Homo sapiens: one gene and its partners. The protein of the gene in region 1 purifies or fractionates together with the protein of each later gene. This does not show direct contact. Each region holds a gene or a part of one and is shown in the gene's direction. Other genes may lie near its edges.

Evidence for each region.
Region 2: the proteins of NPAS2 (region 1) and CIPC purify together in Homo sapiens (affinity purification with mass spectrometry; one large-scale study listed by BioGRID and IntAct). This does not show direct contact.
Region 3: the proteins of NPAS2 (region 1) and PALD1 purify together in Homo sapiens (affinity purification with mass spectrometry; one large-scale study listed by BioGRID and IntAct). This does not show direct contact.

What each region holds. Positions count from the first base shown.
Region 1 is NC_000002.12:100,962,988-100,966,638, forward strand, and holds part of NPAS2 (neuronal PAS domain-containing protein 2), read left to right. Parts: intron 1-1,070; coding exon 1,071-1,189; intron 1,190-1,873; coding exon 1,874-1,956; intron 1,957-2,672; coding exon 2,673-2,779; intron 2,780-3,651. UniProt on the Homo sapiens protein: Transcriptional activator which forms a core component of the circadian clock.
Region 2 is NC_000014.9:77,111,705-77,115,355, forward strand, and holds part of CIPC (CLOCK-interacting pacemaker), read left to right. Parts: intron 1-1,720; coding exon 1,721-2,614; 3' UTR 2,615-3,651.
Region 3 is NC_000010.11:70,565,734-70,569,068, forward strand, and holds the end of PALD1 (paladin), read left to right. Parts: intron 1-847; coding exon 848-1,000; 3' UTR 1,001-2,717; downstream 2,718-3,335.

The sequences.
Region 1 (3,651 bases):
CCTAGGACAGTAATGCCCTCCTAGATGTTTGAGAAGATGTAAGAAGATGCGTGAGAGCAGATTTTGTCACCTGGGCCACACTAGGGAACTAGCAAGTTTTGTTGTAGGCGTTGTGTTCCTCTGGGGGTGACCCCTAAATCCTGAGCCCTGTCTCCTCAGTGGCCCAGACCCAACCCCTGTATCAGCCTGGGCTCCCAAGGGGGAGTTTCAGGACAGAGGCCCTTGAACCCCAGGTATGCCAGCCAAGACAGGGGCAGGGAAGGGGGTGTCAATGATGCCGAGACACCCCTACTTTCCCTGGGACCATCAGTATCAGGAACACTGATTATAGAATTCACCTTAAAACACTGGCTGGAGTATTCAAACCGTTACTGCAGAATGAGGCTGTCTTCTCTTTTTTTTGTTTGTTTTGTTTTGTTTTGTTTTGTTTTGTTTGGAGACAGAGTCTTACTGTGTCACCCAGGCTGGAGTGCAGTGGTGCTAACTTGGCTCATTGCAACCTCCGCCTCCCAGGTTCAAGTGATTCTCAGCCTCCCAAGCAGTTGGGATTACAGGCACACACCACCATGCCCAGCTAATTTTTGTTTTTGTTTGTTTGTTTGTTTTTTAGTAGAGATGGGGTTTCACAGTGTTGGCCATGGTGGTCTCGAACTTCTGGCCTCAAGTGATCTTCCCGCCTCAGCCTCCCAAAGTGCTGGGATTACAGGCGTGAGCCACTGTGCCTGGCCTGTGTTCTCATTTTGTAGACTATTTTTCCCAGCATTATAAGCCATAGGGCTAGTGGAAGTGAGAGGCAGTGCTGAATGCTGGTGACCAGCATGGGCTCAAATCCCAGCTCTAGCAAGCTTTTTGGTCTTGCACAAGTTACTTCCCTCTGTTCCTCGGTTTCCTCTTTTTGCAATGGGAATAATAGTTGACCTACCTCATCCAGTTGTGAAAATGAAATGAGTTAATATACTCTACATAAACCCTGGGGGCAGCGCTTGGCTTACAGTTAAGTGCCAACTAGGGATTGGCTGCTGTCACCAGACAGGGCTAACCTATGTGTCCTCTTCTTCCCAACCCCCCAGTGCCTAGCCCCTCCTGTAATGGTTTTGACAACACCCTTTCAAGACCTTGCCGGGTGCCACTAGGAAAGGAGGTTTGCTTCATTGCCACCGTTCGTCTGGCAACACCACAATTCTTAAAGGCAAGTACCTGAGAGGCAGTTCATTGTGCGGAGCTGTTATGATTGACTCACATTTTGTTATATGTAATTAATGGTCTTTTGGGAGGGAATAAATTGCAGTGAAGTTGTCACTGGCTTTGAAAATCGAAGTGTCTGGCTTCTGTGCCTGCACACACGCCCTTTCCCCTGCCCCGTTTCCTGCAAGTGGTTCTCTTTGAAGGCAGCATCGCTTGCTGTTCAGCCCGCAGAAGTGCTGTCTGATAACTGTAAATCTTCCCACCTTTCACACCGGCGTTAATACCATGCAGGCCAGGCCTGGGTGAGAACCGAGTGTTGGAGCGCTGGGGGTTTGTCTGCCTTCTCTCATCTGTGATTGCTTCAACATCGATGGCATGAATGTTGAGTTAAATGAGTAATTCAGATTCCGATGAAAAGCCATTTTCCACATGTTTGCCACTTCTCGATAATGGGAAGGGATGGTGTGACATTCTGGCTCCTAGGTATTTTTCCCTAGCTTGTGAAATAAATTTAGTATCAGCTAATACCGAAATTAGCTACAGATGATGAGTTTCAGTCCAACACGACTTGGAGACTTGCTCGAAATGATTTTAACTTCTGTTACCCACCACGCGTTCCTCTTGAACAAACCTAGGGTGAGCATCTGGCACCCAAGCAACTTTTTTTTTTTTTCTGCTTCCAATACAGGAAATGTGCATAGTTGACGAACCTTTAGAGGAATTCACTTCAAGGCATAGCTTGGAATGGAAATTTTTATTTCTGGATCACAGGTTTGAGAAAAGAAAAACATATTTGGGTTGGGCCCTTCTCAAGTCTTGTTTGCGTGAGCCAGGCTCTCCTTGGGAGAGAAGAGTCGGCCCTGGTCCATTGAAAGAGGAGGACTCTCTGGCACTAGGAAAAGTCGTCCCTGCCAAGGGTGGGTGGTTTCCCTCCAACTTCATCTGCCCCATCGTGAATATGTTCTGTGTTTGGGTCTGATGGCTCAGCCCCGGGCCATCTTTGGGATGATCCTCACTTGAGGCCCTTCCCGGCTCCCAGTAAGGCAGCAGCAAGTGTGAGAGAAATCTCTCATCTCATTTTTTTCAACATCCTTTGATCTTTTAGCCCAATCTTTACTGTTTCTTTTGTAACATTATTTGCAGTTGAAGAACTCCAAATCTCCCCTCCCCACCCTTTAATTTATATTACACTTTGGTGTTGGGCTGATCCAATTTGTAGCTGTTTTTAATTACCCAGTAGTGATAAAGCTTATTGTTATTTGGGCCAAGTTATGCCAAGGGAAAGGAGTATCTATATGCCAAAAAAAAAAGCTGAGCCCTTTGGAAAACACAGCCTCTCTGATTTTGACCATTACAAAGTTATTTTTCTCCCCTTGTTCTTGAGAAATGAGGCCTCCATGTTGATCATTATGGAAAGGCATGGCCACCAGGGTGAGCCCTGCAGGGTGTCTCCTCCCTGATGACAAGTCCTCCTTGTCCTTGTGCAGAGCACCTCCAATCATAGGATACCTGCCTTTTGAAGTGCTGGGAACCTCAGGCTATGACTACTACCACATTGATGACCTGGAGCTCCTGGCCAGGTGTCACCAGCACCGTGAGTACCACTGCCCAGCCCAGGCATGGGGGCCTTGCGTTCACTCCACTGGGGCCCAGCAGCAGGGCTCTGGGACTCCAGAAGCCTCTGCTCGTTACCTGGTTTCTTTTTAAGGTGAGGAACTTGGTTTTCTCTGAGATGATCTGGGGGCATGGTGGAGGCCCCTTATCCGCGTCTACCCCCATGTCACTGGAATTCACTTGGCCCCAAACCCTAGCACCTTCCCACTGTCATCCAGATAGGCGCCCTGTTTAAACCTAATTAAGAAATTAAGGTGATGCAGGGATTTTTTTTTTTAAGTTATGCAATACATTTCAGAGATAAAATACCGAATTCTCATAACTGTTCTTTCATCAGCAGATAAGTATTGGTCACTAACCATAGGCCAGATACTGAGTAGGCTGGCATATGGGGATGATCAGTACCTACTTGCTGTCCCGCAGGGCAGGTCTTCTGGGAAAGCCAGAAATGGGTGACTTTGTGGGATGTGGTCGGTGCATTGAAGGGGATGTACACAGCATACTGGGGGACTCAAGAGGACCCTCACAGCTGGGGTTCAGGGAAGGCTCTTTGCCACATACGAGGCGAACACATTAGCAAATGTATGGGGGATGGGACTTACGATGTGGGGGAGTGAGAATTACAAGCTTGTCCGAGTTCTCACTTAGCAAGTGGTTTCAAGAATTAACCACTTACAGCTGTATTTTCAGTGCCAACTCTTAACTTGAAATAGGAACACTGACCTATTGATCCTAATGCATGAATCGACCACTAACATTGTGCTTTAAAAGATGCCTCACCTGTAGTACCCATTAGAACTTTTTTTTTTTTTTTTTTTTTTGAGACAGACAGATTCTCGCTCTGTCACCCAG
Region 2 (3,651 bases), on another chromosome or scaffold:
TTGTAAAATCTAATAATTGGAACAAGTCAGCTAAGTATCTGTTAGGAGAGTGGGCATAACAGTAGCATTAGGAAGTACAGTCCAGTAAAATCATGGGAAAACAATGCATTAGATATTTTCCAGATCCATTTGCCTTGTAGGTCATCCCTAGAGAGGGCATGAAGTTTTGCTTCTGACTGAGCTGGAACAGGCTGATTTCTACTTCAAAAGACCTCTTGATTTTGGATCTCCTATGACAAGGAAATATGGTTTCTGGCCCTAGCATTGCTTGCCTTAGTATATTCCGGAGTATATTTGAACATCAAGAGGACTCTAGATCGTTCCAGCCTTTGCATGGGAAATGAACTGGCCTAAAGTTCCTAACCTTGCATCCAAGAAACTGAAATGTGTGCAAAATGGTGCGCGCATGTACATGTATGGGAAGACAGTTCGTAATGTTCTTCAGATAAATCAAATGACCCCACCTGACCCCACTGATGATGTGAAACTCTGTCAGGCTTGCCCTCTGCCTGGCTTTATCTATACTCAGATTTTGGGGACCAGGTTGGAACTGGATTGGCTTTCAAACATTGGAGACAAGTAGCCATGTCCTTCTTTATTAGATTTCGTCTGAATCAATACTTTAATTAAAAAATAATGTATAATTGAGGAGTAATAAACAAAGGCAGTATAGCAGAATGGCTCAGATGGGTTTTAGAGTCAGACAGAGGATGGAATCCTAACTGCATCACTTAGTAACTTGATGACTTAAAACAAGTTTTTTCGACTTTCTAAGCCTCAGTTCCCTGTTTATGAAGGGAAATGGTAACTGCCTCATGGGGTTTTAAATAGATTAAGTAACTCATGTAAAACATTACACATAGTGGTAACCTATAATCAGCACCAATACATGGTAGCTGTTATTATTTTGAATGGTTTTATGATTGTTGGATGTCACTGCCTTAAAAACAGGAACCCATAGACTCCTGACAATATGGGTTTTTTTCTTTTCTTTCTGTTTTTTTTTGTTGTTGTTGTTGTTTTTGAAACCAAGTCTTGCTCTGTCACTCAGGCTGGAGTGCAGTGGCGCAATCTCAGCTTACTGCAACCTCCACCTCCCAGGTTCAAGCGATTCTCCTGCCTCAGCCTCCCAAGTAGCTGGGACTACAGGCGCACACCACCAAGCCCAGCTAATTTTTTGTATTTTTTAGTAGAGACGGGGTTTCACACGTTGGCCAGGCTGGTCTCGAACTCCTGACCTCAGGTGATCCACCTCCCTCAGCCTCCCAAAATACTGGGATTACAGGCATGAGCCATCACACCTGGCCCAATATGTTACTTTTTAATCAAAAGTTATTTTCAGGTAAAAGAGGTTCCAGGTGTGACTAAATGAAGATACACTTTGGTGTAAAGTCACATTTTAACTTACACCAGGAAATCCATATTTTTGTTGTTTCAGTTGTGACCTTAGCTATGTCATTACTTTACCTACCCATTTATTTTTCTGAGTGATAGCACTTGAATAAAAATAGGTATTTCCTCCAGTTTTCCCTTAGAAAAAGTTTAAAAAGTATTTGTGATATCAGACACAAATAGATGTTCAAACCACTATGTGAGAGAAGCACTGTCCTTGAAATTGTTCTAAGCATTTGAGTATCCACTTGCCCCTTTGACAGAAGCTTCACTCCTCTATCCTTTCAGCAGTAATGAGTAGTGTGCTGCTCTCCTCCTTTGTCTTCAGGGCAGCAGCTCATCCCAGCTCCAGTCGTGGACTGTCCAGCCCTCCTTTGAAGTGATCTCAGCACAGCCACAGCTCTTATTCCTTCATCCACCTGTACCATCTCCTGTCAGTCCATGTCACACTGGTGAGAAAAAGTCCGACTCCAGGAACTACTTGCCCATTCTGAATTCTTACACCAAAATAGCCCCACATCCAGGCAAAAGGGGCCTTTCCCTTGGCCCAGAAGAAAAAGGAACAAGTGGAGTGCAGAAGAAAATCTGTACTGAGAGACTTGGGCCTAGCTTGTCTTCCAGTGAGCCAACCAAGGCTGGTGCTGTCCCATCCAGTCCCTCGACGCCAGCACCACCCAGCGCCAAACTTGCCGAGGACTCAGCTCTGCAGGGTGTGCCCTCTCTGGTGGCAGGTGGAAGTCCACAGACTCTTCAGCCGGTATCCAGCAGTCACGTGGCTAAAGCTCCCAGTCTGACCTTCGCTTCCCCCGCCAGTCCTGTCTGCGCATCAGACAGCACTCTCCATGGGTTAGAGAGCAACTCTCCCCTTTCACCACTGTCCGCTAATTATAGCTCACCTTTATGGGCTGCAGAGCACCTCTGCCGCAGCCCAGATATCTTTTCAGAGCAGCGGCAGAGCAAACATAGGCGCTTTCAGAATACCCTAGTAGTCCTACATAAATCTGGTTTGCTGGAGATCACTTTGAAAACCAAGGAGTTGATTCGTCAGAATCAGGCAACTCAGGTAGAACTAGACCAGCTAAAGGAGCAAACCCAGCTGTTTATAGAAGCCACCAAGAGCAGGGCCCCTCAGGCTTGGGCCAAGCTGCAGGCATCTTTAACACCTGGGTCCAGTAATACAGGCAGTGACCTAGAAGCATTCTCTGATCACCCAGCCATATAGCACAGAGGCATATTTTCCTGTTACTTGAGTGGTTCTTTTAGCTCATTTGCTGTTACCTACTCCTGTTTCCCAAAGCTTATGTAAGAGCTTTTCCTTCTAAACTTAAACTGTGTTGTGGTTCACTTAGGAAGCCACGTGCCAATACCTGGCTGCTGTCTTAACTCGTAGTCTGGGCACAGGATACATATGTCCCCGTCCCACTGAGGACCTCAGTTTGGGAGTGCCCTTGAGCCCCTTTTCCTTAGCCTGCAGGTGCTTCAATGGATCATGGGGCAAAGCAGGAGATGATTGTGTGGGGCTCTTCCTGCTGTCACCTCCCATCATCCCACTCTCTCACCAGGATCAAGGGTACAGTAACACGAATGAGCATACAGAGCAACACCTGTTGAGCCAGGGAGTAGGTGACACAAGGAAACCTTCATGGATCTTCCCTTGCCTGTCTTAGTCACAGAGAGAAATAAGAGGAGGTTGTTTGCATCCCACAAGGCATCGTACTAGTTGGGCGAGACCTAAAATTCCCTGGGCACAGGTTGCACCTGGGTGTGAGCACTTAATCACTCAACGCTTTGTTTTCTTACACTTGAAAATCAAGGGAAAGAGTAGTACCATCTGACTCCTACACTTTCATTACAAGTCAGATTTTTCTTAAACTAGCAGGCAAAAACAGTACTTCCAAATTTTAAGGTATGGAATGAATGCAGTACATCTGGAATTGTAGTCGATGAATTGCTTTTTTGACTTAGAAGCTGAAGAAAATAGACATAGCCGGCATATCTCATGGTCAGGAGCTGGACGATTCTGGTAACTTAGGCTTTTTTTCTCTCTTCTTTTGAAACAGTGTAACCTGTTTTATGTCTAAAAATCTTAAGGATAGTTTCAGTGGTTCCTGGGATGTAGTATAAGTTAACTCTGCTGCCATCTTGTTTTTTTTTTTTTTCCTTTATTTTGATAAGTGATTATTATGCTTGATAAACTTTGAATTAAATACAGTTGTCTTGAGGGTATGATAAGTCCACAAAAAATTGGAAAGCATCTTA
Region 3 (3,335 bases), on another chromosome or scaffold:
GCCTTCTTGAGCAGGCCTGGGCTCAGCTTCCTCTGCGAGCCCCTGGGGAGGGGTGGAGGTGGAAGGGGATGAGGACACTTCCTGCTTGGGTTCTGCTTGGAGAGCAGAAGTTGGGGGAGCCTGGGGCCGAGAGGAAGCTTGATCCCCTCCCCAGCTGAATCCCCCACTGGGGCTGGGGGAGGTCAAGAAAGGAGGGCTGCCGGTCCAGGCAGAAGTGTGGGTTCCAGCCTCGGGACCTCAGCCCCTCTCTCCTGCGGATGAGTGGAGGGTAGCAGTGAGGGAGGCCCCAGAGCGGGACGGACCCATTCCTTTGTTCTAAGTGGAGGCTGCACCCTCCCCTTCCCCAGGATGGTGGAGAGAGAAGGGGACTGGTTGTGGATGGTTTGAGTCTGGTGCCAGGGTCTGGGCTGCTGGGCGGCAGGGCTGAGTGTCCAGGGGTGCCTCCAGCTAGCCCACCTGGGGCAGAGGCCATAGCCTTACCTGCCCCTGCATCCACGTTCTTCCTCCAGCCCTCCCTTTAGGCCCTGCTCCTGGGCGTCCACGTGGGAGCATCGAGCTGCACAGGGCCCAGTGTGTGCCTGGCCTCCCTCGCTGCTATCTGTGTGGAGCACTCACTGTCTGCCCAGTACTTTCTGTATGTGTAGAGTCCTCCTTGAGACAGTCCTGTGAGGTAGAGTCTTTTCCTTGCTATGAGGAAACTGACGCTCAGAGAAGTTAACAGAAGTCAAGGTGCAAACTTGTTCAGGTCACCAAGTTCACAGGCCACAGACTCATCTTCAGAACTCAGTGGCCTTAGTGGCACCCTCCCTCCCCTGAAACACTGCTCCTGCCTCTGCTCTCCTCCCAGGTGGCATCGAAGGCTGGCATCTACGAGATCCTTAACGAGCTGGGCTTCCCCGAGCTGGAGAGCGGGGAGGACCAGCCCTTCTCCAGGCTGCGCTACCGGTGGCAGGAGCAGAGCTGCAGCCTCGAGCCCTCTGCCCCCGAGGACTTGCTGTAGGGGGCCTTACTCCCTGTCCCCCCACCCACAGGGCCCCACGCAGGCCTGGGGTGTCTGAGGTGCTCTTGGCTGGGAGCGGCCCTGAGGGGTGCTGGCCTTGAAATGATTCCCCCACTTCCTGGAGAGACTGAGCGGAGTTGGGAGCCTTTTTAGAAAGAACTTTTTATAGGACAGGGAGACAGCACAGCCATCCCTTGCAAACCACCAAGGTGTGTGGCTGACCTCCAGGGAGGAGCACTCACTGGAGTGCTCACAAGGTGCACACTGCTGTGTGTACCTTGCAGACAGGCCGGCGTTCAGCCTCCAAGGGGCTCACTCCCCCAGTTGCCAAACACTGTGGATCTCTCTGTCCTCTTCTCCCCTCTCTCAGATTGGCCTGGCAGCCCCTGGCACAGAGCAGACCCGGCCACTGGTAGCTCCCCACTTCCTTACTCCTGCTGCTCTGCCATTGCCGCTCCCCTTGTTGCTGCCCAAGCACTGCCCTCGGGCGTCTGGCAGCCTGAGGTGGGTGGAGGGGACAGTGTTCTGGATAGATCTATTATGTGAAAGGCAGCTTCACCCAGTTTTCTGGACTCTCATGCCCCCATCTCCGACCTGGGAGACTTCAGGAATGACAACCTACCCAGCCTGGTGGGGCTGGCAGGATGGTGGAGGTTTCTCAAGGAGCTGGAGACTTCAGGGAGCCCCTCTCATGGGGAGGAAAGAGCTTCCAGGGGGCGAACGCAGCACAGAGGAAGAGGCCTGCTCCACTTGTCTGGGAACCTGGGCAGGAGGCACAGAGGAAGCCAAGGCCTGGAGCTGCAGGTCCCCCGGCATCTCTCTCTGTCCCGGCAGCCCAGGATGGCCTGGTGCCCCCACCTGCTGCAGCAGGAGCCCCAAGGAGTGCTAGCTGAGGGTGGTTGCTGGGGTGGTCCTCATGGACAGTGAGGTGTGCAAGGGTGCACTGAGGGTGGTGGGAGGGGATCACCTGGGTTCCAGGCCATCCTTGCTGAGCATCTTTGAGCCTGCCTTCCGGTGGGAGCAGAAAAGGCCAGACCCTGCTGAGTTAGAGGCTGCTGGGATCCACTGTTTCCACACAGCGGGAAGGCTGCTGGGAACAGGTGGCAGAGAAGTGCCATGTTTGCGTTGAGCCTTGCAGCTCTTCCAGCTGGGGACTGGTGCTTGCTGAAACCCAGGAGCTGAACAGTGAGGAGGCTGTCCACCTTGCTTGGCTCACTGGGACCAGGAAAGCCTGTCTTTGGTTAGGCTCGTGTACTTCTGCAGGAAAAAAAAAAAAGGATGTGTCATTGGTCATGATATTTGAAAAGGGGAGGAGGCCGAAGTTGTTCCCATTTATCCAGTATTGGAAAATATTTGACCCCCTTGGCTGAATTCTTTTGCAGAACTACTGTGTGTCTGTTCACTACCTTTTCAGGTTTATTGTTTTTATTTTTGCATGAATTAAGACGTTTTAATTTCTTTGCAGACAAGGTCTAGATGCGGAGTCAGAGATGGGACTGAATGGGGAGGGATCCTTTGTGTTCTCATGGTTGGCTCTGACTTTCAGCTGTGTTGGGACCACTGGCTGATCACATCACCTCTCTGCCTCAGTTTCCCCATCTGTAAAATGGGAGAATAATACTTGCCTACCTACCTCACAGGGGTGTTGTGAGGATTCATTTGTGATTTTTTTTTTTTTTGTACAGAGCTTTTAAGCATTAAAAACAGCTAAATGTGAGTGCACCTGGCTGCTAATATGTCTTTAGTGTCAGACAGACGTTCTAGAACTGGTACAACAGGCTGAGGTCCCTGCCCCTTCAGAGTAAGGGTGGGCAGGCAGAGTGAGTTGAGAGCACCTGTTCTTGGCACTTCCAGCTCTAGAGCAGGCGGGTTTTTGCAGACACGCATCCCCAGTTTTGCCTCACCCTCTTACACTGGATGTCAGGCTGAGCTCCTCCTTGAAGAAAGCAACGGAACCAGCGAATTCTCACTAACATATGAAGGATTGCTGCATCTAGGGAAACAGTATAGAGCAAAGTGGAATTGGGGGCCTGTGAAGGAGCCTGGATCTCAGCCTCCACTTTCTCCCCTAACCCCTGTGGGCCCCACCTGACCCCTTTGGGCCTCTGGTTGATTGAACACACCTCACCCCTGGTTGAGTGCTGGCATTTAAAGAGTCAGTGGGGAGGGTGGGGTAGAGACAGCACTGACTCCAGGCCTCTTCCCCCATGCTTGCAGGGTTAGGGGAACAAGGTTGTAGTTCCGAGGTCAGCTGGGGTGGGCAGAATGGAACCCAGAGCCCCCACCGCCCCTAGGGTTGGTGTTCTCCCCAGACTAGGAGAGAAGGCCCCGGGGG